7 linked regions of the Homo sapiens genome follow. The protein of the gene in region 6 interacts with the protein of the main gene of each other region in a biochemical or structural test. Each region holds a gene or a part of one and is shown on either strand. Other genes may lie near its edges.

What was found.
Region 1: the proteins of PBK (region 6) and MPP1 interact in a test that uses a peptide from one of them, tested with the Homo sapiens proteins (one large-scale study listed by IntAct).
Region 2: the proteins of PBK (region 6) and PDZD9 interact in a test that uses a peptide from one of them, tested with the Homo sapiens proteins (one large-scale study listed by IntAct).
Region 3: the proteins of PBK (region 6) and MAST4 interact in a test that uses a peptide from one of them, tested with the Homo sapiens proteins (one large-scale study listed by IntAct).
Region 4: the proteins of PBK (region 6) and SDCBP2 interact in a test that uses a peptide from one of them, tested with the Homo sapiens proteins (one large-scale study listed by IntAct).
Region 5: the proteins of PBK (region 6) and PTPN4 interact in a test that uses a peptide from one of them, tested with the Homo sapiens proteins (one large-scale study listed by IntAct).
Region 7: the proteins of PBK (region 6) and PDLIM1 interact in a test that uses a peptide from one of them, tested with the Homo sapiens proteins (one large-scale study listed by IntAct).

What each region holds. Positions count from the first base shown.
Region 1 is NC_000023.11:154,781,486-154,784,985, forward strand, and holds part of MPP1 (55 kDa erythrocyte membrane protein), read right to left. Parts: intron 2,624-3,500; coding exon 2,543-2,623; intron 2,023-2,542; coding exon 1,942-2,022; intron 318-1,941; coding exon 115-317; intron 1-114. UniProt on the Homo sapiens protein: Essential regulator of neutrophil polarity. Regulates neutrophil polarization by regulating AKT1 phosphorylation through a mechanism that is independent of PIK3CG activity.
Region 2 is NC_000016.10:21,994,617-21,998,116, reverse strand, and holds part of PDZD9 (PDZ domain-containing protein 9), read left to right. Parts: intron 1-1,615; coding exon 1,616-1,795; intron 1,796-2,808; exon of another isoform or gene 2,809-2,854; coding exon of another isoform or gene 2,855-2,879; intron 2,880-3,500.
Region 3 is NC_000005.10:67,159,393-67,162,892, reverse strand, and holds part of MAST4 (microtubule-associated serine/threonine-protein kinase 4), read right to left. Parts: intron 2,438-3,500; coding exon 2,301-2,437; intron 287-2,300; coding exon 105-286; intron 1-104.
Region 4 is NC_000020.11:1,309,409-1,312,139, reverse strand, and holds the end of SDCBP2 (syntenin-2), read left to right. Parts: intron 1-1,248; coding exon 1,249-1,340; intron 1,341-1,644; coding exon 1,645-1,699; 3' UTR 1,700-2,231; downstream 2,232-2,731.
Region 5 is NC_000002.12:119,955,422-119,958,921, forward strand, and holds part of PTPN4 (tyrosine-protein phosphatase non-receptor type 4), read left to right. Parts: intron 1-1,422; coding exon 1,423-1,513; intron 1,514-1,594; coding exon 1,595-1,656; intron 1,657-3,500. UniProt on the Homo sapiens protein: Phosphatase that plays a role in immunity, learning, synaptic plasticity or cell homeostasis. Regulates neuronal cell homeostasis by protecting neurons against apoptosis.
Region 6 is NC_000008.11:27,827,818-27,831,317, reverse strand, and holds part of PBK (lymphokine-activated killer T-cell-originated protein kinase), read left to right. Parts: intron 1-3,119; coding exon 3,120-3,213; intron 3,214-3,500. UniProt on the Homo sapiens protein: Phosphorylates MAP kinase p38. Seems to be active only in mitosis. May also play a role in the activation of lymphoid cells.
Region 7 is NC_000010.11:95,239,004-95,242,503, reverse strand, and holds part of PDLIM1 (PDZ and LIM domain protein 1), read left to right. Parts: intron 1-3,500. UniProt on the Homo sapiens protein: Cytoskeletal protein that may act as an adapter that brings other proteins (like kinases) to the cytoskeleton. Involved in assembly, disassembly and directioning of stress fibers in fibroblasts.

The sequences.
Region 1 (3,500 bases), on a different chromosome or scaffold from region 6:
CCCATTAAAAGGCTGAAGCAATCCTGAGCCCCCAGAAGATTCCCAAGGAGCACTGTCTTCGCCATCCCTTGTGTGGCTGAGCCCATCTGTCCCTGCCCTTCCATGCCTACCCACCTGGGGCTCAATGTCAAGGATGGCAATCTTGTTCTGCTTATGGATCTGGTGCACTGTTTCAAATTTGGTGCCAAACATGTTGCCTTGGTAGCTGCCAAACTCCAAGAACTCATTGGCAGAGATGTTCCTCGTCATCTCCTCCGTTGAGATAAAGTGGTACTCCTTCCCATCTTCCTCACTCTTCCTTGGCGGCCGTGTTGTATCTGTGTACAAGAACCCAAATCCCCGACAAACTCCAGGTCCTCACCCTTTCATGAGGGCTTGGACCATGGTGTCTGTATGGAAACCCTAGCTGCCTTTGGTGCATTGACTTTAATACAGGGGTTCCTCCCGTGGGCTCCTGAAGAGCTGATGCTAGAAAGTGATGCACACCAGGAAATCCCTCCATCTGCCCAGGACACATTTAATTTTTAAGGGGCAAAGCCTAACATAGAAAATTCCTATTATCATTTTCCCTAAATGAAGTTACATCTCTCAAACTACCAAATCTAGGAATATTGAAACTTAGAAATGAAGATAGCGGAAAATATTTTAAAAACAGATCTACAGACTATGGTCAGGATTTCTTGGAAATATATTTAAGGTTTCCTTTTCATGACTTGGAAAGAAGAGTACTTTGGTTTAGTTTCAGCTCATGTTGTTAAAAGTTGGACTATTTTCTATTACTCATATAAATTGTCTAATCAGTAAAATATGCTCCAGATATTGTAGCTTGAAACACAATCCTCCCAACCTCCCCTCTTTCCATCTTCCATTGACTGTCTCCTTTGCCTTCCGGATCACACTTGTCTCTCAACTGGCCCCTTCCCCTCAATCTACAACCACATGTGATTCTCTTGAAGGAGGAGCCTGTACTGGTTATTTCTGCTTCCCCACTCACTCCTGGGGCCATCTCTTTCTGCTCCTAATGTGACACTGGAATAACTCTTATGTCCCTCCAGCAACGAGACAACTCTCAATGATCCATGTGTAAAAAAGCAAAATGAAGAAAGAATTAAAAAATAGTAATATGAGGTTTAGAATCTGGTTTTCTATTTTGCTTAGCAGTACAGTAATTCCTCACTTAATATTATTATCAGTAGGTTCTTAGAAAATGTGACTTTAAGTGAAATCACATGCAGCTGGTCGTTGACTAACATGGTTTAGTTCAACTTCATTTCATTGTATTGTTGATGAGTAAAAAAACTGGTTCTTGTTATATGTCATTTCACTTAAAGTCACAGTCTTCGAAGAGCCTATTGACAATATTAAGTGAGGAATCACCGTATTTCTTTCTGGGAACATACACAACTATACCATGCAGCATCACTTCTGGGAATGGAAGAGTTATCAAATTCTCCACCTGATCACTGGCGCTACTCTTCTCCATATCTAGGACTGCTGTTGAGATCGTTTGGGCCTTTCCTAGGCACTGCTTTGATTTAGAAGACATTCCATGAAAATGAGAGGCAGCCTGAACATCAAGAGTGGGATAGTTCTCAAAGAGAATTAGGCAAATTGCAGAGGAACATGAGAAAATGTTTAAAAAGTAAAATGACAAAGTTATATGTATAAACTTTAATACTTAGTAATTTTTAAGGCAGTATCAAAATGTTTACTATAGCTTCTGTTATGTAGACAAACAGCACGAATAACAATAAGAAAACAGTTATTCTGTTAGGTGGAGGAATTGTGGGCACAAATTTTTATCTTTCCATATTTTGTTTAGTTTTAATAATCATTTAAAATAAAATAATTTAAAAAATAATAAAATAACACTATGGTATTTCAGATGGCGAGTGGTACCAGCCTGTCACCTCCCCTCCAAGGTGCCTAAGAGCTACTTACATGGGACAGGGTACACAAACTTCTCCGGATTCTGGCTGAGCAGGGCATTCTTAATGTGGCTGCGACCCACCCCACTGGCTCCTGTGTAGAGAGAGAAGAACATCTTTTGGAAAGGGGGGAGAGGAGCGAGGATAAGATACGGATTTTCCTCTCTCGGCACTCAAAACTGCCAACAGGTGAACATGAGTTGGGGTTGCATCTGGGCTGGGGTCAACTCTAAAGACAGGAAGGTGAGCAGTCCGCCAGAGGCAAAGCCTACATACCTGGGTTTGAAGCAAGGACTTACTCTGTTTCAGGTCAGAGTCACTGCTTGGGGGAAGGGAGATTTACAAAGCGTATCACTGCCAGCAGACAGCATGAAACCTAACCAAAAATAATTCGTTGCTAAATAGTAGAGAAACTTGTAAGGTTTAGTTTCATTTGTGAGGTGGACCCAGGTGGGGTGCACGTGAGGATTCAGAAAATTCCTTACACCTGCTCTATATGGAGAACCCAAGAGACCTCAGTTCTTTTCTTCCTCACTGCCTTTTTTGGGGGTGGGCACGTGATGCAGGCAGGAAAACAAAGACAGAAATGTGCAAATGGGGCAATGAGAAGATACCGATCAGCACCAGGGTCTTCCTCTTGAATGCAGGGAGCCGAACGACTTCCTCGTAGGAAACAACATCCAACTGATCAAAAACTAGAGACAAAGAAAACCAAGCAGTGTTCATTTCCAGAGCTAGGGAGAACAGTGGTCCACACTCTGAAATGGGAAACAGCCTCGCGACATCTCAACAAGCAGGGAGGAAGTGACTAGAGATGAGACGAGGGAGGTTGGTGTGGAGGAAGGACTTTGGACTGTATTTTTAGTGTGGTGAGGGAATTTTGAGCAAGGGAGTTTATCTAACTTTTGCACCCTCTCTTCCTCCTTGCCCTATCTCTCTGAGCCAACTTTTCTTGTCTCCTGTCCTCATCTCTTCTCCATAGTTTCAGTATCAGATGTTCCCTTGGCACTTAGAGCTGAAGAATGCCAATGCTATCTCGGTTCTGCCTGAATGTCCCTTATCTTAGAAGATGGTGGTGCTATTGACCCAGCTGCTCAAGATAGAGACCTGGTGTCATCCTGACTCTCCACCCCCTTACCTGCCTACAACCCAAGACTGCCACGATCATTCCCTGGCTGGTGGTGTGCACGTGACGTCTCAGAAAAGAGAAATGCAGATGGAAAGCTGACCGTGCGAATTCTCTGCTCAAAACCCTTCACCAGCTCCACAGTCTATAGTGCAAAATTTAAAACGCTAGGGAGGGTGCACGAAGCTCCCTATGACCTGGCCCTGGCCTCTCCCTCTGGCCTGTGTTCTTGCCTCACTTCCCCTCTCCCACCACATCTACTTCTGTGTGAGGGGTGGGGTGATGAGCAGGTGTGGGCTCACCACTAGTCCTCCTTTACATCCACTGGCCTGACTGCAGCAAGCTTGTGAAGATGGATTCAATAAAAAGAAACCAGAAGAAATGACATGCTTTCTGTAGAATGCGCCTTCTGCTGCGCACTGCACCACCTCCCCTTTTCTGCTGGT
Region 2 (3,500 bases), on a different chromosome or scaffold from region 6:
AGTTGCTCCCAGAACCCTGAAAGGTCTCTGAAGATGGTATCTTGTTTATATTATGCTATTTTATTTTCCCAAACAGAGAGCATCTGTGGTTTGGGGGAAGGTGAGGTTGGAGATGGGCAAGGACATTTGCTTTAGAGGAAAGGGCCATGAACCCCTCCAGCTCCCCACAGCCAGAGGTAGGGAGCTGGGGGAGCCTCTCCCTCAGCAGTGGCCCTGAAAACACCACAGTCACATGGACTTGGCAAGCTTGTGTGTCACCTGTCCTTATGGAAAGGAGTTGTGTGTGAAATGCTGGAAAAGTGTGCTGAAAACAGATCTCCCCAGGAGCTTCCTGTGTACCGAAAAGGAGTTTCCTAGCAACTTCCTCTTGGGAAATTAACTTGTTGTTTTGAATGTCCTTTTAGTCCCTGAAATTTTTCTTGTGAGATTTGGTTCTGTAGAAAACATATTTCAACCTCTCCCACTACCCCTTGTCTCCAAGGCCTTCGGATTTTCCCCCATGTGCTTTTTGGATCCATCCACTGCTCATTTCCGCTGTCACTGCCATGACATGTGCCAGGACCCTGTCATTTTCATGTCATTTCATTTCATCTAACCATGTCCAGCTTTACTCACTTCGGAGCCTTTTCACTAAGGAAGTCTGAGAAGCAGCCTCTGTCTGGTTGGTCCTCGCTCCTCCTGCCTCCCCCTCCTCTGACAGGGACTGTTCCTTCCTTTCTCAGACCTTAACACAATTTGCTCCGGATCCACCTTTCTTTGCCTAAATATTTCCTATTGGTCCTTTTGGCCTTAATTCAAATTTTAGCCCTGCTGGAAGCTTGACCCGCCATCCCCAGATGAGACTTTGGCCCTCTGTTACTCATTCTCAGAGCCCTCCGTCCTTTTCTTTCATAGCATGAGTTACAGTTTGTTATCCAACATATATTTACATGACTGATTGATATCTGTCCCCTCCACTAGGCTGTAAAATTCATGAGGACAAGAAACACATGTGGGCCAGGCACGGTGGCTCACACCTGTAATGCCAGCACTTTGGGAGGCTGAGGTGGGAGGATTGCTTGAGTCCAGGAGTTCAAGACTAGCCTGGCCAATATAGTGAGACCCTGTCTCTACAAAAACAATAAAAATTAGCCGTGTATAGTAGCACATGCCAGTAGTCCCAGCTACTTAGGAGGCTGAGGTGGGAGGAGCCCTTGAGCCCAGGAGATCGAGGCTGCAGTGAGCCCTGATAATGCTGCTGCACTCCAGCCTGGGCAACAGAGTGAGACATTGTCTGTTAAAACCAAAAAACCCAACACATCTGTTTTGCTCACCATGGTAAACCCAGGGCCTAGCACACTGTATCAATAAATATTTGTTAAGTGAACAGATAATACTAACTAATATTGATTAAGCACTCACAATATGCCAGACTCTGCAAAAGCCCTTTAATGCACCCATTTAATTTTCAGAAGAGCTCTCCAAGGTGAACATTTTTATCCTCATTTTACTGACAAGGAATCTGAGGAACAGGGATTAAATAACTGTCCCAGGGATCTGGCTTCAGAACCCCAGTAGGTATGGCCATGCTTCTGTCTTGGTGAAGGACTGAAATAAGTTCCCCTCTTTTGGTTAGAAAGAGGAGTCAGCAACAAGGTCAAAACATCTGTACACAACTTGAGCAAAACACAGCAGACCAAACTCACTGTGGGTAGCCTGGGATTAGGCCTCATCATCATCCAGCATGGACCCTACCTCCAGATCACCCACCTCATCAGGAAGGGGGCTGCAGCCAACGACGGGAAACTCCAGCCAGGTGATTGCCCTTTCGCCATGCTTCCCAACCACCCATCCTGCCCATCTGCCTGCAGGGTGACTCGGGTCACCGGGTTTCAGTGTAACTATAAGGATATGACGGGCATGCTGGCTCATGCCTGTAATCCCAGCACTTTGGGAGGCCAAGGCGGGGTGGATCACTTAAGGTCAGGAGTTTGAGACCAGCCTGGCCAACATGGTAAAACTTTGTCTCTACTAAAAATACAAAAACTGGCTGGGAGCAGTGGCTCATGCCTGTAATCCCAGCACTTTGGGAGGCTGAGGTGGGTGGATCCTGAGGTAGGGAGTTCGAGACCAGCCTGGCCAACATGGTGAAACCCTGTCTCTATTAAAAATACAAAAATTAGCCAGGCGTGGTGGCACATGCCTGTAATGCCAGCTACTTGAGAGGCTGAGGCAGGAGAATCGCTTGTACCCAGGAAGTGGAGGTTGCAGTGAGCTGAGATCGCGCCACTGCACTCCAGCCTGAGTGACAGAGACTCCGTCTCAAAAAATAATTAAATAAATAAATAAATAAAATAAATACAAATACAAAAATTAGCTGGGCCTAGTGGCGGGCGCCTGTAGTCCCAGCTACTCAGGAGGCTCAGGCAGGAGAATCTCTTGAACCCGGGAGGCGGAGGTTGCAGTGAGCTGAGATGGCAGCACTGTACTCCAGCCTGGGTGACAGAGTGAGACTCTGTCTCAAAAAAAAAGGATATGACATTAGTTGAGAACTTTCTATGGGCCAGCCAATGGCTATCACTTATATAACTATCACTGTTGGGCATATTAATTCATTTAATTCTGGCTGGGTACAGTGGCTTACACCTGTAATTCCAGCACTTTGGGAAGCCAAGGTGGGAGGATCCGTTGATGCCAGGAATTCAAGGCCAGCCTGAGCAACACAGTGAGATGCTGTCTATATTAGTCCGTTCTTGCACTGCTATAAAGAAATACCTGAAACTGGGTCATTTATAAGAAAAGAGGTTTAATTGGCTCATGGTTCTGCAGGCTGTACAGGAAGCATGGCTGGGGAGGCCTCAGGAAACTTACAATCATGGCAGAAGGTGAAGAGGAAGGAGGTATGTCTTACATGGTTGGAGCGGGAGGAAGAGAGAGTAGGGGGAGGTGCTACACACGTTTAAACAACCAGATCTCATAAGAACTCACTCGCTATCACGAGAACAGGAAGGGGGAAATCTGCCCTTGTGATCCAGTCACCTCCCCCCAGGCCCCTCCTCCAACACCGGGGACTACAGTTGAACATGAGATGTGGGCGGGGACACAAATCCAAACCATATCACCATTTCTACAACAAAACGAAAGCAGCCCGGCATGGTGCGTGCCCGTAATCCTAGCTACTCAGGAGGCTGAGGTGGGAGGATCACTTGAGTGCAGGAGGCCGAGGCTGTAGTGAGCTATGATTGTGCCACTGCATGCCAACCTGGGTAACAGAGTGAGACCCTACCTCTAAAAAAAAAAAAAAAATTAAATTTACTTAATGAGGGTCAGTGAGATTGAGTTCCTTGTCCAGGTCACCTGTTTCTCCTAAGTGGGGATTCAGGGACCATGTTACTCCAGAGCTATGGCTCTCAGTGCGTAAAGATATTTTCTTTCGTAGGCAGTATTAAGCATTGCTAACACTTAGCTGCACGATCTCATTTCACTCTCACAATCCCTGAGCTAGATTCTGCATGAAACCA
Region 3 (3,500 bases), on a different chromosome or scaffold from region 6:
TCAACCTGCTTTCTTTCAGCTGGAACAAGCTTCATGTTTTTTGGGGACCTCACATGACTTTACCTCCCCTCCCCTCTGCTGTTTAGACCAGGAGACTCACTCACCAGATGGGAAGTCAGGGGTGGAGCGGTAGCTTGGTGTTGGAGACCGGGGAGACAAGCTATGAGTGGGGGAACCTGGGAGGCTCTCACCCGATGACAGGGATCTGTTCAAGCAGGAGAAACTTCGGCTGGTGTGGAGTAAAGGAGAAGGCTGCTTGGCTAGCTTTTTGAAAAGAGATCTCCTCCTACAGAAAAACAGGAAAAAATTGTTCAGTCTTCTTTCAGAACTATTGCTGCCTCCCCAAAATACCATTGTGCTCAGCTCAATAACTCCGTGTGAGGGACAGGGATACAACAGCAGATCCTATTAAAGAGCAGAACACCACTTTCCTATTAGAAACCTTCTTATGACATGTAAAGGAAGAGTATTTAATAGTAGACAATGGAGCCTCTCTCAATTCCAAACACTTAAGAAGAGTTGGAAAAATAGGAAAAATATAAAATGCATTAAAAATACATTCATTTACTTGTTAGGTATATGAGGAGGATGCTCTTTGCTTGAAAGCTTCTGAGTACCTACCCCTAAATATGCAGACACAACTTAACTAAGAGATAATACAAAGTAAACCTCTGGAAGCAAAACCATTGTATTGGAAATCAAATTCTTTAATGGTGATAGGCTGGGCAGAGGCCAATGAAGGGCTATTTGCTGTGCTTATTCCATTGTGGGCTCTTGAATATTCCTAACAACAATGCAGGCTGTACAACGACATAGAAAAAACCGAGAAAGGTGAAGCTGAAGCGTATCGTATCAGCAGGGCAGCAGACACTGTACTGCAGCAGAAGCAAATGTGGATTTGGTACTCAATGAGCACATCTTAAGGCAAAAGCACAGCTTCTGACACCTTAGCAGGGCATCGGGCTGTGCAAAGTTCTTTTACCATATAAGCCTATATATGGTAAGATCTAACCCACTCCACATAAGCTTAAAACAAAGTTTCTGGTTGCTAGCCCTTGAAACAATTTGTTCTAAATGATTTAAAGCACAGCCAAAATATAAAGCATAATAATAAAGAAGATCTTATGTGTGTGTAATTTTAATCAGAGTAATAAATGTACTTGGGTGAAAAAGTCAAATACTTCTATAAACATACAATGAAAAACAGCAACTCCTCTACTCGAATTTTTCTCTACTCCCCAAAGAAGTCGCTTTGTATTCTTTTACCTGTTTCTTCTCCCATTTGTCTACATATTGCTAAATGTTTGTACACTGCTATTTTTTAGTTTTTCAGTTTTAGAAATTACCTGTTGATTTTCTACTATGAAAGATGATAATTAAGCTCTTATACAACCACCTTCTACCTTGCAACCAAATATATTTCCCCTTTTCTATTCTTCCCAATATAGCGAAAGCAAAATTTTTGGTTAGAAAAACGGCCGGTATTTTATCTTATATTATAAATATTGTTCACAGCTGGGCCATATGAAACATAATTCTGTTCCTTTCTTGTATAACTTTTTTTCCCCCCAGAGTTAATACATGGCTTTTCGTTTGCTTGTTTTTCTACATTTCTATCATCAAAAATCCTTTTAATATGATGTGACTCATCAGGCCCAATTGAGTAAAGAAATGCTGTGGCATTGCAAAGGAGGCACACCCAGAGAGCTGCCTGGCAAGAAACAGCCCTGCCAGAAACACATACCTCTTGCTAGTGTCTGCAAGCAGCACAAAAAGATACTGATCAGTGCTTCCCAGGCTACAAAAGTATATAAGCTAGTTCGTTTTTCAGTGAGTAAAACAAAGCCCTTTTATTTCTAGGCTTATTCGGAACCTTTAAAGGTAACAGTAATTTTAGAATATCTGGCATTTTAAAAATAGCAACTGTTTGTTTTTTGATAACGTAAAGGACATTTTAAATGTAGATTTAATGTTAAAAACCACCTGAAGATCCAGTTCCTCAATCCAACTCAACTGAAATCAAGTGAAGAGGCTTAAAAAACAGCAAAGGGCTTTTCCTGACATTCACACATGATAAAAAACAATCTGAATCCTTCCACAATGTAAATATGTAAATCCTTTTACTATGGAAGTTGATGCTATTATGAATATGGATTTTAATGTATACATATATGTGAACCATAACATAAAATTTCTCACAGAAAAATAGATCTTCTTCATATATAAGCATTTAATTAAGGGGTAACTTTTCCCCAACATAGGTATACACCAAACTTAAAAAGAATACTGATTTTACTAACCTTTCGAGACTTTCTTTCTTCTTGGATTTCTTGCTCCGCCTCACCATCCGGCTCTTATAGCTGTTTCTCCTGGCTGGTCCAGTTTTGATTGATGTGTTTTCAAATGGGGTAGTAGTGATTGACACCTTATTCCCACTCTAAAGAAAAGATGAGGTGGCATTAAAGGGAAATGCTGTGATGAAGCAAGATCAGAACAGAGATGAGAGATTCATAGACAAATACAAATAGAAAGGAACATACATATAAAAGGCCTTCTGTTTCTAAATAACCCTTCAATCAAAGAAGTCCTGCCAGAATACAAACTGGGTGGAAGGCAAAATATGAAGTTTCTTTACGAGGGTGAGTTCTGGAGTCCACAGATCTGAGTTCAAATCCAAGCACTGTGCCCTTACCAGGCTGCTACCCTCCCTACCCTCAACTTCCTGTACCAATTAACAATATAATCCTACCTATCTCCTGGGGCTCATTTGAGGATCACATGAGAGCAAGTCTGTAAAGCCTTTTGCACCCAGTGCAACACAAGGAAAGAACACTATAAATAAGATAACTACTTCTTCCACAGGTATTAAGTATTAATGTTCCCAGTGGCTGGCTGCTCTTGGTTGATTTTTCTTTTTTCTCCTTTTTGTGTTTTTCCTTTGGCCTAAAAATTGTAGAGTAACAAAACCGAATGAGACTTTTATTTTTAATTATTTTAAAAGGCTCCTTTTCTATCACCATAAAACCTATCAGTTTGCAGAGCTGGAACATTTATGCCAGCCAGTAGGAAACCTCTTTTTAACCAGGTCATACAGGGTAAGGTAATTTCTGTGAGTTTCGGTGTCCTTTCTCTCAATCCTGGGAAGGGGCTTGCTGGGCAGCCTCTAGGGATGGAACTGAGCGTGGAGTCAGCAGTCAGGCCGAGGGGGGCCCAGGGCAGGTGGGTAGTCCCTGGCATCAATTACCCTTCCTGAATTTCATAATAACCAGGGGAGAAACCTGTCCTTTCAAGGTCACAGATGGCCCCGATTACCATGAAAGTACAAGAGGTACAAGGAAAAGGATCTTTTTAAAGGCCCATGCCTGGAAGATACCTAGAGCTCAGCTCAACATGGTACCAAGTGAAGGGGAGTTGGGGGGAGTTAGGTATGGTGGCAGCAGAGGACTGAAAAGACAGGGAATGACTGTCTTAAAGATAGCATCTACCTTCCCCCTTGATTT
Region 4 (2,731 bases), on a different chromosome or scaffold from region 6:
GATCACTAAGTCCAGGAGCACGAGACCAGCCTGGGCAATGTGAAACCCTCTTTCCACAAAAAAAACTAAAAAATTAGCCAAGCGTGGTGGTGCACACCTGTAGTCCTAGCTACTCAGGAGGCTGAGGTGGGAGGACTAATTGAGCCTGGGAGGTCAAGGATGCAGTGAGCTATGATCATGCCACTGCACTCCAGCCTGGGCAACAGAGAGAGACCCTGTCTCCAAAAAAAAAAAAAAAAGACAGTGTACCTAGAGCTCTGAGCACAGTGCCAGGCACATAGCAGGTGCTTAATACATAATAGCTATTGCTGGCTGCATGGACACCTCCTTGCTCTGTATGGCACTTTTTTTGGTATAGTGGATCATGTTCAGTAGTTTAGGAATGTTTTAGAAAATCGTTATTCAGAAATCCATGGGGTCGTGAGGTTCTTCAGAACTGGGTTTGTCCCAGCCAGCCACACTTCTTGAGATCGTTTGTCTTTTCAAAGTTTATTTCCACCTGTGGCCATCACTAGTCCTGTCTAGCACATCTTCTCACATTTATTTTCGAACAACCAAGAAAACACATAACCAGATAACATACATGTGTAATGTAAAGGTCAATAGGCTCTGAGTGAGGGCCAGAGGCTCTTCTATGGCCATAACGTTAGTGTTTGGACCACCTGGCACGCTTTGCGTAGAGACTTTTAATTTCTTGTTCTTCCCATGATCTAAGTGGTGTCTGCAGGCCCATCTCTTTTTATCAAACAAGCAAATGTAAGAGGATGTAAGAGGAGGAGGATCCTTATGGCCCTGGAGGCAGCAGGAGCCAGAGGGTGGATGGGTACGCCTAGTACCTCCCACAGGATGGGGAGGCATTTATGCTTTGAGGCCAGAACCCAAATGTGACTGTGGGCTTGGTGAGTCTCTGGGAGCCCTTGGAAGGGGGAGGAGAATCGCATTGATGAGGCCCTGTTACGCGTCAGGCTCACACCGCTGGCCTTCAAGCTGAGGGTGGGAAGAGGCATGCTCATTTGACCAAGGAGATCCTCAGGTGGGAGACCCATGTTCTCACTCAAGCAAGACCTTACCTGGGAGTCTGCTGGGACCCTCATCTGACAGGCTCGGGGTCCGAGGCAGCCCTGCCCTGCAGTCAGCCATCAGTGGTGTCCTCTAGCAGTGGCCATGCTGATCCCTCCACAGAGGGGCCTGTAGAGTTGCCCCTGGTCCCCAATCCTTAGGGTGATCGCTTACTTGCCTCCTCCCTAGGACAAAAAGATCATGGAGATTCTGGCCACGGCTGGGAACGTTGTCACCCTGACCATCATCCCCAGTGTGATCTACGAGCACATGGTCAAAAAGTAAGGCTGCACCCCTCCTCACCCCTCCTCACCCCTCCTCTGCCATCCCCTTCACCTCCCGGCCTCCCAGGTGCACCTGGCTCAGCCACTTCCACTTTCTCAGTGCTGACACAGGGCACAGGCTCAGCCAGCTCTATCCTCCCTTCCCCTCCCTCCAAGGTAGCTTGTGGCTTCTGGTGATTCGAAAGTCTTAGAACTGGGAGTGAAGGCCCACATGGGATGCACTGGCTCGGAAGGGGGTGGAGGTTGCTGGAGGGTGGAGAGAAGGAGCTGCCAACCTGGTCACTGTTGTTGCTGTATCCAGGTTGCCTCCAGTCCTGCTCCACCACACCATGGACCACTCCATCCCAGATGCCTGAAGCCACTGCAGGGCAGGGCAGGCAGGGGGGGCTTCCCGCCCTCCTGCAGCAAAGGGCAACCACCCTCGGATGATGGGTTGCAGCCGGCCTGCTGCTTAAGGTGGGGGCTGCCATGAGGGGGGCGTGTCCAGGAGGGTGACCATGGGATGGCTTATACACACAGGCCTCCTTGGAGCCTCAGACTCCAAGCTAGGCTGAGGCTCAGGCAGGGCCCACAGGCAGCCGATTCTCTTGTGCTGATTTAAATGCTGGACACGGAGGCAGGCTGTTTAAACGCTGCTTAAAGTCGCAACTGGGCCCCTTTCAAGAAATTTTGCTCTACCAGGAAAACAGTTACACATTTTAAGAGAACAGAGCTACGTTCTTTGTGAGAGCTTTTTCCTTGCCTTGACTTGCTCTTTGTCACAGACTGCATAAGTTGTCAGCCTTGACTATCTTTTGAATAAAGATTTGATTTTAAACAAAACCCTGTCCGCAAAGGTAATTGATTCCCCCAAAACTATTGAAAATAAAATAAAAAGGTAACTGAAAATTCTGGAATCCTTGGTCCCCTGACGTGCCAGGGCTGGTTTCCTCTTAAACCGTGGTGAGACCAGGGCCTTTTCTACGCGTGGCCTCTGAGAGCCATGATTTGGCTCTGCCTCTGTCACGTGCCACCTGCCAGCCTGGCGCGGGGATGACTGGAACTGGGGACAGGATGGAACTGTGGGGATGGGGTAGGACTGTGGGGCAGTGGGGCTGACAAAGGGAGCACTGGCTTTGGGGCACCCCCCGTGTGACCGTGGCTGCTTCTGCTTCTGCAAAGTGGGCATGAGAAGCCACTTTAGGGGGTGTTGGGGAAGGTGAGACGCGATGTGCTCATGGCGCCCAGCAGGGTGTGCCATGTGGGGGCAGGGGGAGGTGGCTCCAGACTCTGAGCCTGACCCCAAGAGGGCAGTGGTGCCTCAGCCCCACACAGCTCTCTGCTTCCCTGCACATCAGAGATGATCGCTGCCCACGTGGCTTTTTCCCGTGCGGGTGTTGTGACCCCTG
Region 5 (3,500 bases), on a different chromosome or scaffold from region 6:
CTAAAATGATATTCTGAGAAATGTTTGACATAAAGAGTTCTAAAATGCCAAGTTTTAAAAATTGCTCCCAAAATACTAGCTATGGTTATATAAATAGAATATGTTTTAAAAAGAGGGATAAGGAAATTTTATACATATGTCATCAAACTAAATTTTTTTCTATAGTTAAATAGCTGTTTTTTTGAAAGGTGGCAGATGAAGATAGGCTATTATATACTTTAAAATCCTGAGCTTGGCCAGGTGTGGTGGCTCACGCCTGTAATCCCAGCACTTTGGGAGGCCGAGGCGGGCGGATCACAAGGTCAGGAGATCAAGACAATCCTGGCCAACACGGTGAAACCCCGTCTCTACTAAAAATACAAAAAATTAGCCGGGTGTGGTGGCAGGTGCCTGTAGTCCCAGCTACTCAGGAGGCTGAGGCAGGAGAATGGCGTGAACCTGGGAGGCAGAGCTTGCAGTGAGCTGAGATCGCGCCACTGCACTCCAGCCTGGGCGACAGAGTGAGACTCCATCTCAAAAAAATAATAAATAAATAAATAAATAAATAAATAAATAAATAAATAAAATCCTGAGCTAAAGGAAAATAACTTTTATTTTTGAAGTTTATACCTTGTCATTTAATCTTTGTTTATTTTTCATTGGTGCAATCTTGAAAACTGGAAAAACCAAAACTTTCAGACAGATCATTATATCCAATGAACTAGAATGCTTCTTCAGTGCTTATAATGTGCATTTTGACCCACGATCACCCAGTGGATTTTGAAATGTTTTATTCAGACTATATCAACCTAATTTGTTTAAATTAATAAACCTGAATTTTTTTTTTTTTTTTTTTTTTTGAGAAGCGGCCTCTCACTATGTTGCCTAGGCTGATCTCAAATTCCTATGTCCAAACAATCCTCCAGCCTCAGCCTCTCAAGTAGCTGGAATTACAGGCATGCACAGCCATGCTAGGCTCCCTGGATAGTTTTTAATGTGTTTTTAGAAATGACCATCATTAATATTTGTTGTTCTGACATATATGTTATAGGTAAGTGTTTAACTATAAAACATTTAGGATATGTCTGTTTTTGTTCAAAAGTTCTTAGTTCATAGACTGTAAACACCTCCAAACTAAATGAAAGTTAAATGTTTTCTGCAGATTTGCTACTCACAACTTCAGGTGCTCCTGCTGTAAGCAGAATTGGTTTCACTAGTTTTACCACTTTTCAAAATATGACACATAATTTATGTTAGAAACTGAAGAATTCAGCTTTGCAAATCTGGTTCAGTACTCTACTAGACTATGGTATATCATTGTATAGATGACCTATTCAAAGGCAAAGAAACCTGTTTCCTGTTAGTGTAGAAACAAGTCTGGTAAACAAAAGAGAAATTGTTTATGGCTTTTGTTGGAATTGTACCTTTTTTTTTTTTTTTTAGCAACTGTATCGGAAAAAACCTGGAATGACAATGTCCTGTGCCAAATTACCTCAGAATATTTCCAAAAATAGATACAGAGATATTTCGCCTTGTAAGTATCTTATTGTCTCTGTTAAATTTAATCTTTTAAACATAACTTTACTAAAACATTATTTCTTTTAAATTTTTTTAGATGATGCCACACGGGTCATTTTAAAAGGTAATGAAGACTACATCAATGCGAACTATATAAATGTAAGTTTATTCTTATTATGCCTTTGCCATTTGGAAAAATACGAGCCACTATGAACTTTGAGGTTCTTTTTGTTAAAATCCTGACCTGGATAGAATATTAAAACTTTCAGCTATGAAAAATATTATTGAAGTAATATTAAAGAAAATATTTTGGTACTTGTGTATTAATACAGGTAGAGCAGTGGAATGGAATAGTCCAGTTCATAAATAGACTTAGATACTAGAATTTTGTTTATGGTAGAGGTGGCCTTTTAGATCATTGGAGATAGACTATCCAGTGAATGGGTGGTTGGGTCAACTGTCTAGAACAGGAGCCCCCAACCCCTGGGCCATGGACCAGTAATTGTCTAGGTTGCATGCTCATTATGAAAATCTAATGCCTGATGATCTGTGGTGGAACAGTTTCATCCTGTAACCATCCCCACCTCCCACCCTCCCAACCCCACTCCATGGAAAAATTGTCTTCCAAGAAACCAGTCCCTGGTGCCAAAAAGGTTGGGGACCACTAGTCTAGAATACGTCATTGTAAAGAGGCATTTTTTTTTCTTACCTGGAAAAAAAAATTACTATTTTTTTCTTAACTCTGTAATTAGAAAATTTCAAATGTACAAAATTAAAGCAAACCGTAAAATCAACCTTCATGTACACATCACTCAGTTTCAGCACTTGTCAACTGATGACAAACTTGGTTTCACCTTTACCAGGTTCTTTTGAAGCAGATCTTTATATCATATCGTTCATCTATAAATACTTTACCTCTACTCACTCTTGATGCCAACATGTATTTCAAATATATCAAAATGTAATTTTTAAAGTGGAATTATGAAATTATTTGAAGGAAATATGTGAAAATTGTTTAAAATCTCAAGGGGAGGTTTTTTAAGCTTAGATACATGTCTAAGCTTAAAGAGATGAATTTGACAAGGTAAAATTTGTTATTTTTGGTATGCTTAAAAACTACTAAAATCAAATGACAAATGGAATTTTTTAAATACTAGAAAAAGCTTATTTAATATACAAAGAGCTTCATAAATGAATAAGAAAAGTAAGCCTCGGCAACATATTGAGACCCCATTTCTCGAATAAAAATAAAAATATAAAAATATAAAAATTAGCAGTCATGGTGGTGCATGCCTGTTGTCCCAGCTACTCAGGAGACTGAGGTGGGAGAATTGCTTGAGCCTGAGAGGTTGAGGCTGCAGTGAGCCATGATCACATGACTGTCACTGGGTGACAGAACAAGACCCGTCTAAAAAAAAAAAAAAGAACAATGAAAATAATGGATGAAGGACATGCAAAGACAATTCATAGAAAAGGAAATTATGCAAATGACATTTTTAATAGTCATTTTTAAATTTATACAAAAGTAGAGAGAATAGTATAAAAGAGTCCCCCCATACCTCTTACGCAGTTTCAAGAGCTATCAACTAGTGGCCAATCTTAGCTAAATACTAACCTCCAAATTATTTTTAAGCCCAAATATATCACTGTATATGTCAGTTGAGTTAATTCTCACCATTCGATGTTGTCATGCTCTAGAAAGTCTTTGTACATGCTAAATTAGAGACTATTTAATCATTGCTTCTAGGGAAAATACAGGGTTAGGTTCCCCCAGGCCAAAAGTCACAACATTTTAATTAGCTGATCAATACATACTGTTGTTTCTGTTTAAAGACACTTTATTTAATATATAGTGCTGATTCATTAACATTTAACTCATAGTCAACAGCACTATAACTCATGCCTCAAGGAAGCTTATCTAACACACATATTTTCTCCATGAGGTATATCACATCCTTCTTGCACTTAGAAACACTAGTCAGCACTTTAAAACTACACTTGGG
Region 6 (3,500 bases):
ACAACAGTGTGATCTCGGCTCACTGCAACCTCTACCTCCTGGGCTCAAGTGATTCTGGTGCCTTGGCCTCTGGAGTAGCTGGGATTACAGGCGTGCACCACCATGGCCGGCTAATTTTTGTATTTTCAGTAGAGACAGGTTTTCGCCATGTTGGGCAGGCTGGTCTCAAACTCCTGGCCTCAAGTGATCCACTCTCCTTGGCCTCCCTTTCAAGTGCATGCAACATTCACCAAGACACATAAACCACAAGTCAGATCCCAAAGTGTTGGGATTACCATGCCTGGCCTAGGATGGTTATTTCTTTTGATGAATTTATACCTTAACTGTTACGAAATACCCTTCTTAATCCTCAGTGGTACTCTTTGTTCTGGAGTCCACTTTATGTGATAGTAATGGAGCCACTCCAGATTTATTTTGATTTGTGTTTTAATGATGTTTTTCAACCCTTTACTCTTGCCCTATTTGCGTCTTTATATTTAAATTGAGTTTATTATAAATGGCATGTCTCGTCTTGTTTTTATCCGTTCTGACAACTTTAATTTCCTTTAACTGGACTGTTTTGCCATTAGCTACATGTGGCTATTTAAATTTGGTTATTTAAATTTGGATTATTAAATGTGGTTATTTAAATTTGGATACAAATTAATTAGAATTAAATAAAATTACAAATTGAGTTCCTCAGTTGTATTAGTCACATTTTAAGTGCTCAGCGCTCAGACAGCACAGATATAGACATTTCCACATGGCAGCATGATGTATTGGACAGCTCTGTTTAGACCATTTATACTCAATGTAATTGTCTATTGTTGGATGTAAATCGGCTGTTTTGCTATTGTCCCATAGCTCATTGATGATTTTTTTCTAACCTTTTTCTCTCTTTGCTTCATTTTTGATAGTTTTTGTTGCTCTGTCTTAAGATTTAGTTATTCTTCTGCTCTAAGATGATGTTATTCTTATCCATTGTATTTTTCATTCCTAAGCTTCTATTTTGTCTTTTTTTTTCCGTTATGCTCAGATTTTCCTTTGTATCATTGAGCACATTTTTAAGATTTGTCTTAAGGTTCTTATCTGCTAATTTTGCCATTCCTGTCATTTTTTTTTTTTTTTTTTTTCTTGAGACAGAATCTTGCTCTGTCACCCAGGCCGGAGTGCAATGGTGCGATCTCAGCTCACTGCAACCTCCACCTCCTGGGTTCAAGCAATTATCCTGCCTCAGCCTCCCGAGTAGTCGGGATTACAGGCACGTGCTACCACGCCCAGCTAATTTTTGTATTTTTAGTAGAGACAGGGTTTCGCCATGTTGGCCAGGCTGGTCTTGAACTCCTGGCCTCAAGTGATCCACCTGCCTCAGCCTCCCAAAGTGCTGGGATTACAGGCGTGAGCCACCACTCTTGGCCTCCTGTCATCTTATGGTATGTTTCTATTGATTGATTGATTTTTTAATTTTTTGAGATGGAGTCTTGTGCCCTGTCGCCCAGGCTGGAGTGCAATGGCGCTATCTCAGCTCACTGTAACCTCCGCCTCCTGGGTTCACGCCATTCTCCTGCCTCAGCCTCCCGAGTAGCTGGGATTACAGGCACGTGCCACCACACCTGGCTAATTTTTTGCCTCTTTAGTAGAGACGGGGTTTCACCATGTTGGCCAGGCTGGTCTCGAACTCCTGACCTAGTGATCTGCCTGCCTCGGCCTCCCAAAGTGCTGGGATTACAGGCGTGAGCCACCGCGCTAGGCCTCTATTGATTTATTTTTCTCCTATATTGGTCATATTTTCTTGCTGCTTTCATGCCTGGTACTTTTTGATTGGGCAGTAGATATTTTGCATTGTCTAGTACTGGATTTTGTTATTCCTTTAAAGAGTGTTTGATTTAGTTATGGTCTGAGGTTAAGTTACCTGCACATTAGCCTGTTCCTTTTGAGACTGGCTTTTAAGCTTTGTTTTGAATGTTTATCTGGGGCTAAACTTTAGCTGTACTATCTAGTTGTGACCCTTTAGAGGACTTTACTATGTGTTACAGGGTTACCATCCTCTAGCTCATGGTGATATGAAGTGTTCCTAGACTTGTATGATCTCTGGTAATTGTTGAGCCAATTGCTTTCCTCTGGTGCTTTCCCAGCTTTGGGGCATCTACACATTGTTATGTGCGGATAAGTACTTGGCCAAACACTCAAAGAGAAACTGTTCAGATCTTTGGAGTGCTCTCTTTGGAGCTCTCTAGTTCTCTGCTCCACAAATTCTAGCCGCCTAGTCCTTCTTGACCTCTGATCTCTGTCTCTTCAATGTGACAGGACTTCTGGATTATGTGACCTCTGTCCTGCAGTCTGGAAACTGCCTTCAAGCAGTAAGTTAGGGCAGTGATAGGGCCCACCTCATTTGTTTCTCTTCTCTCAGGCATCACAACACTGCTCTGCCTGTTGTCAAGTGTCTGAAAACAATTATATTTTGTCTAGTTTTCTAGTTAATGGCGAGATGGTAACTCTAGGAGCAGTTAATTGTCCAGGAGTAGTTAATTATTTTTCATGAGCAGAAGCAGAACTCCATCTTTTCATCTTTTTTTTTTTTTTTTTTTTTTTTTGAGACTGTGTCTTGCTCTGTCACCCAGGCTGAACACAGCTCACTGCACCTGCACCCTTAACCTCCTGGGCTCAAGTGTTTCTCCCAAGTAGCTGAGACCACAGGTGTGTGCCATCATTCCTGGCTAATTAAAAAAATTTTTTCGTGTGTAGAGATGGAGTCTCTTTATGTTGCCCAAGCTGGTCTCTACTGGGCTCAAGTGACCCTCCTGCCCCGGACTCCAAAAGCGTTGAGATTATAGGCATGAGCCACCACATCCAACCCCTTTATCTTTTAACAATGTTTTAAAAATGTGAAAACAGTTCTTAGCTTGTAGGCCATACAAAAACAGGCCATTTCCCAATCTCTGCTTCAGAGTTACTGTAGGATAAAACTCCAAAAGTAGGCTTGGTCAAAAGATACCCATTTAAAATTAGGATATATGTTGTCAAATTGCTCTCCAAAAAGACTGTGCCAATTAATACTCTTGGCAGTAGTATATTGAGAATGTTAAGATGCTTTATTTTTATTTTTTATTAATTTTATTTTTTATTTCTCTGACATTTAGTATTATGTTCAACTCCAACTATAAATATCCCGGCCTCTCCGTTTATGCAGAAGCTTGGCTTTGGTACTGGGGTAAATGTGTACCTAATGAAAAGGTAAGTATAAGATTTCAGATTAACCTTTTTTCATGCAACTATAATTCTACTGTACTTGGAGACAAAGAAGTAGTCTGAAAATTCCAGTATTTAGATTCGGTTGTCTGCTCCTGATCCTGGCTGATGGCTGTATTCCGGTCCCTAGACCCTTTTGTAACTTTGCCTGTAGCTCTGCCTCTGCTTTTCTCCTAGCTTCCTCCTGATGGGTTATTAAAGGGGAAGTCATTTACTTTTTAATTTTTCCTTGGCTTCCATAAGAAGGGGAAGTGGCAGGGGAAAGGGTTCCT
Region 7 (3,500 bases), on a different chromosome or scaffold from region 6:
TGTTGGCCAGGCTGGTCTCGAACTCCTGACCTCAAGTGATCTGCCCGCCTTGGTCTTCCAAAGTGCTGGGGATTACAGGCATGAGCCACTGCGCCCGGCCTTGAGTGCAGAATTTAAGGGGGCACTGGAAAACTCAATAATCATGAAAAAAAATGACATTTAAATGCAATATTAAAAAAATTAATACAGGTAAAATATATGGTGAACAAAGTTGGAACTTTGGCCTCCTCCCAAAGGAAGGGAGGAAGGCTTGGGAAGGGCAAGAAGTTGCCCTAGGCTCGGGGAGAACAGAAGCACCAAGGTGGTTTCTCCTTATGCACCTGCTGGTGGGGCAGAACTGAGTCTTCCCCAAGCCCATCTGTAGAGCTCACCACTTAAAACCATGGAGCCTCCTAATCTCAGCCCCATCTCATGTGCTGCCAGGTGGACATCTGTGTGCATCGGTTCCCAGCGATGAATAGTCCCAGCTCTGAGGGGGGAAGCCTAAGTCTGAGCCATGGCAGCATGATAGGGCTATTGAGAGTTCAGGCTGCATTCACATATACCCTCTTGTTGTTCCCCATAAGCCAGCCAAGTACCCCAAACCATCTCTCATATTGTATTATTCAGCAGTGGGTAATCTGTATTTATGAGGGCTACCGGATAGCTGTGGCTCTGCTGGGCTTGGCAGGGCTGGACCAGGCCCCGAGTCCTCTCATTCAAGCCCAGGGAAGGGAGAGGCACTCTGGTGCTTGCTGTTTTCATGGCAGAGGCAATACCTCTGTGGGAACAGGGCCAAACCACACAAGTGCCCTTAGTGCTTTTGCCTGTATAAGGCTCACATCTGCTCACGTTGGCTAAAGTCAGGATGGGGAAGTCTACTCCATCGAGAGCAGGGTTTCTCAGCCTTGGTGCTATTGACATTTTGGGCCATATGAGTCCTTGTTGTGGGGCTGCCCTGTGTATTTTGGGATGTTCAGCAGCATCCCTGACCTCTGCCCACTAGACGCCAGTGGCATCCCCTTTCACTGTGACAATCGAAACTGCTCTCTAGGAGACAAAACTGCCCCCAGTAGGGAACCACTGACTGGAGGTAAGCATGGCAAGAGAGGGGCGGGGTAATTGTGGTCAAAATACAGTCAACCATGTATTCTAAATGCCCCTTGTTGCCAGGCACAGTGGCTACTGGAGAAGCTCTGGTGGGAGGATCGCTGGAGGGCAGGACTTTGAGACACAACATAGCGAGATGCTATCTCTAATCAGTAAAAATAAACAATTAATAAATGTCCATTGTGTGAACATGTGTCTCAATTTTTGGTTCGGAAGGATTGGTCAGCATACAGGGACTCACTTTCTGAAAGAACAAGAGAGCTAAGGCCCTTGTCTGTCAGCCCCGCGATTGCCCGACGTGACTGCAGTCATGGGGTGACCCTCTCTTCATCCCCTCACCTGGCACAGGAAGCTGTTTCTTTGCTCTTGTCCAGTGGTTCTTGGATCAGTGGCGCCTGGGAACTTGTTGGAAATGCAGTCTTAGGCCCCATCCTGGGCCTTCTGGCTCAGAAACTCTGGGGGTGGGGCCCAGCAATCTGTGTGTTAACAAGGCCTCCAGGTGATTTTTACCATTATTAATAGCTACCATGGTACAGGGCTTTGTTACCTAAGATGTGATGAGTGGGGCCTTAGGCAGCTCAGCATCTAGCTACTAGGGGCTTATTTTACACGCACCAGGCTGACTACAGAAAGGCTCCTTCCTCTGCTCTGTAGGAGATGATTGTTATCTGCCTGCTGTAGCATGCTGTATTCTGATGGTTTTGTTCTATCTGTGATGTGGATTTCTTTTCTAAGAACTTTATTTATTTTTAAATTTCCAACATTTAAGTTCAGGGGTACATGTGTAGGATGCACAGGTTTGTTACATAGGTAATGACGTGCCATGGTGGTTTGCTGCACAGATCATCCCATCACCTAGATATTAAGCCCAGCATCCATCAGCCATTCTTCCAGATGTTCTCCTTCCCCCACTCCCCACCATCTGACAGGCCCTAGTGTGTCTTGTCCCTCCACCATGTGTCCATCTGTTCTCATCATTCAGCTCCCACTTACAAGTGAGAATATGTGGTATTTGGTTTTGTGTTCCTGCATTAGTTTGCTGAGGGTAATGGCTTCCAGTTCCATCCATGTCCCTGCAAAGGACAAGATCTCGTTCCTTTTTATGGCTGCATAGTATTCCCTGGTGTATACGTACCACATTTTCTTTATCCAGTCTATCATTGATGGGAATTTAGGTTGATTCCATGTCTTTGCTATCATGAATAGTGAGTGCTGTGATGAACGTAAGAGTGCATGTATTTTCATGATAGAATGATTTATATTCCTTTGGGTATACATCCAGTAATGGGATTGCTGGGCTGAATGGTATTTGTGCTTCTAGGTCTTTGAGGACTCACCACACTGTCTTCCACAATGTTTGAACTAATTTACATCCCAACAGTGTGAAAGCGTTCTTTTTTCTCCACAACCTTGCCAGCATCTGTTGTTTTTTTACTTTTTAATAATAGCCATTCAGACTGGCGTGAGTCGGTATCTCATTGTGGTTTTGATTTGTATTTCTCTAATGATCAGTGATGTCGAGCTTTTTTTCATGTTTGTTGGCCGCATGTATGTCTTTTGAAAACTGTCTGTTCATGTTCTTTGCCCACTTTTTAATGGGGTTATTTTTTTCTTTTATTGAGATGGAGTCTCGCTCTGTTGCCCAGGCTGGAGTGCAGTGGCACAATCTCAGCCCATTGCAACCTCCGCCTCCTGGGTTCAAGTGATTCTCTTGCCTCAGCCTCCTGAGTAGCTGGAACTATAGGTGCATGCCACCACACCTGGCTAATTTTTGTAATTTTAGTAGAGAGGGGGTTTGGCTATGTTGGCCAGGCTATTCTCAAATTCCTGACCTCAGGTGATCCACCCACCTCGGCCTCCCAAAGTGTTGGGATTACAGAAGTGAGCTACTGTGCCCGGCTTATTTTTTTCTTGTAAATTTGTTTTAAGTTCCTTGCAGATGCTGGATATTAGACCTTTGTCAGATGGATAGATTGCAAAAATTTTCTCGCATTCTGTGGGTTGTCTCTTCATTTTGATGATAGTTTCTTTTGCTGTGCAGAAGCTCTTTAGTTTAATTAGATCCCATTTGTCAATTTTTGCTTTTGTTACAATTGCTTTTCGGGTTTTCATCATGAAATCTTTGCCCATGCCCATGTCCTGAATGGTATTGCCTAGATTTTCTTGTAGTGTTTTTATAGTTTTGGGCTTTACATTTAAGTCTTTAATCCATCTTGAGCTGATTTTTATATATGGTGTAAAGAAGGGATCCAGTTTCAATTTTCTGCATATGGCTAGCCAGGTCTCCCAGCACCATTTATTAAATAGGGAATCCTTTCTTCATTGCTTGTTTTTGTCAGGTTTGTCAAAGATCAGATGGTTGTGGGTGTGTGGTCTCGTTTCTGGGTTCTCTGTTCTCTGTTCTTCTACCA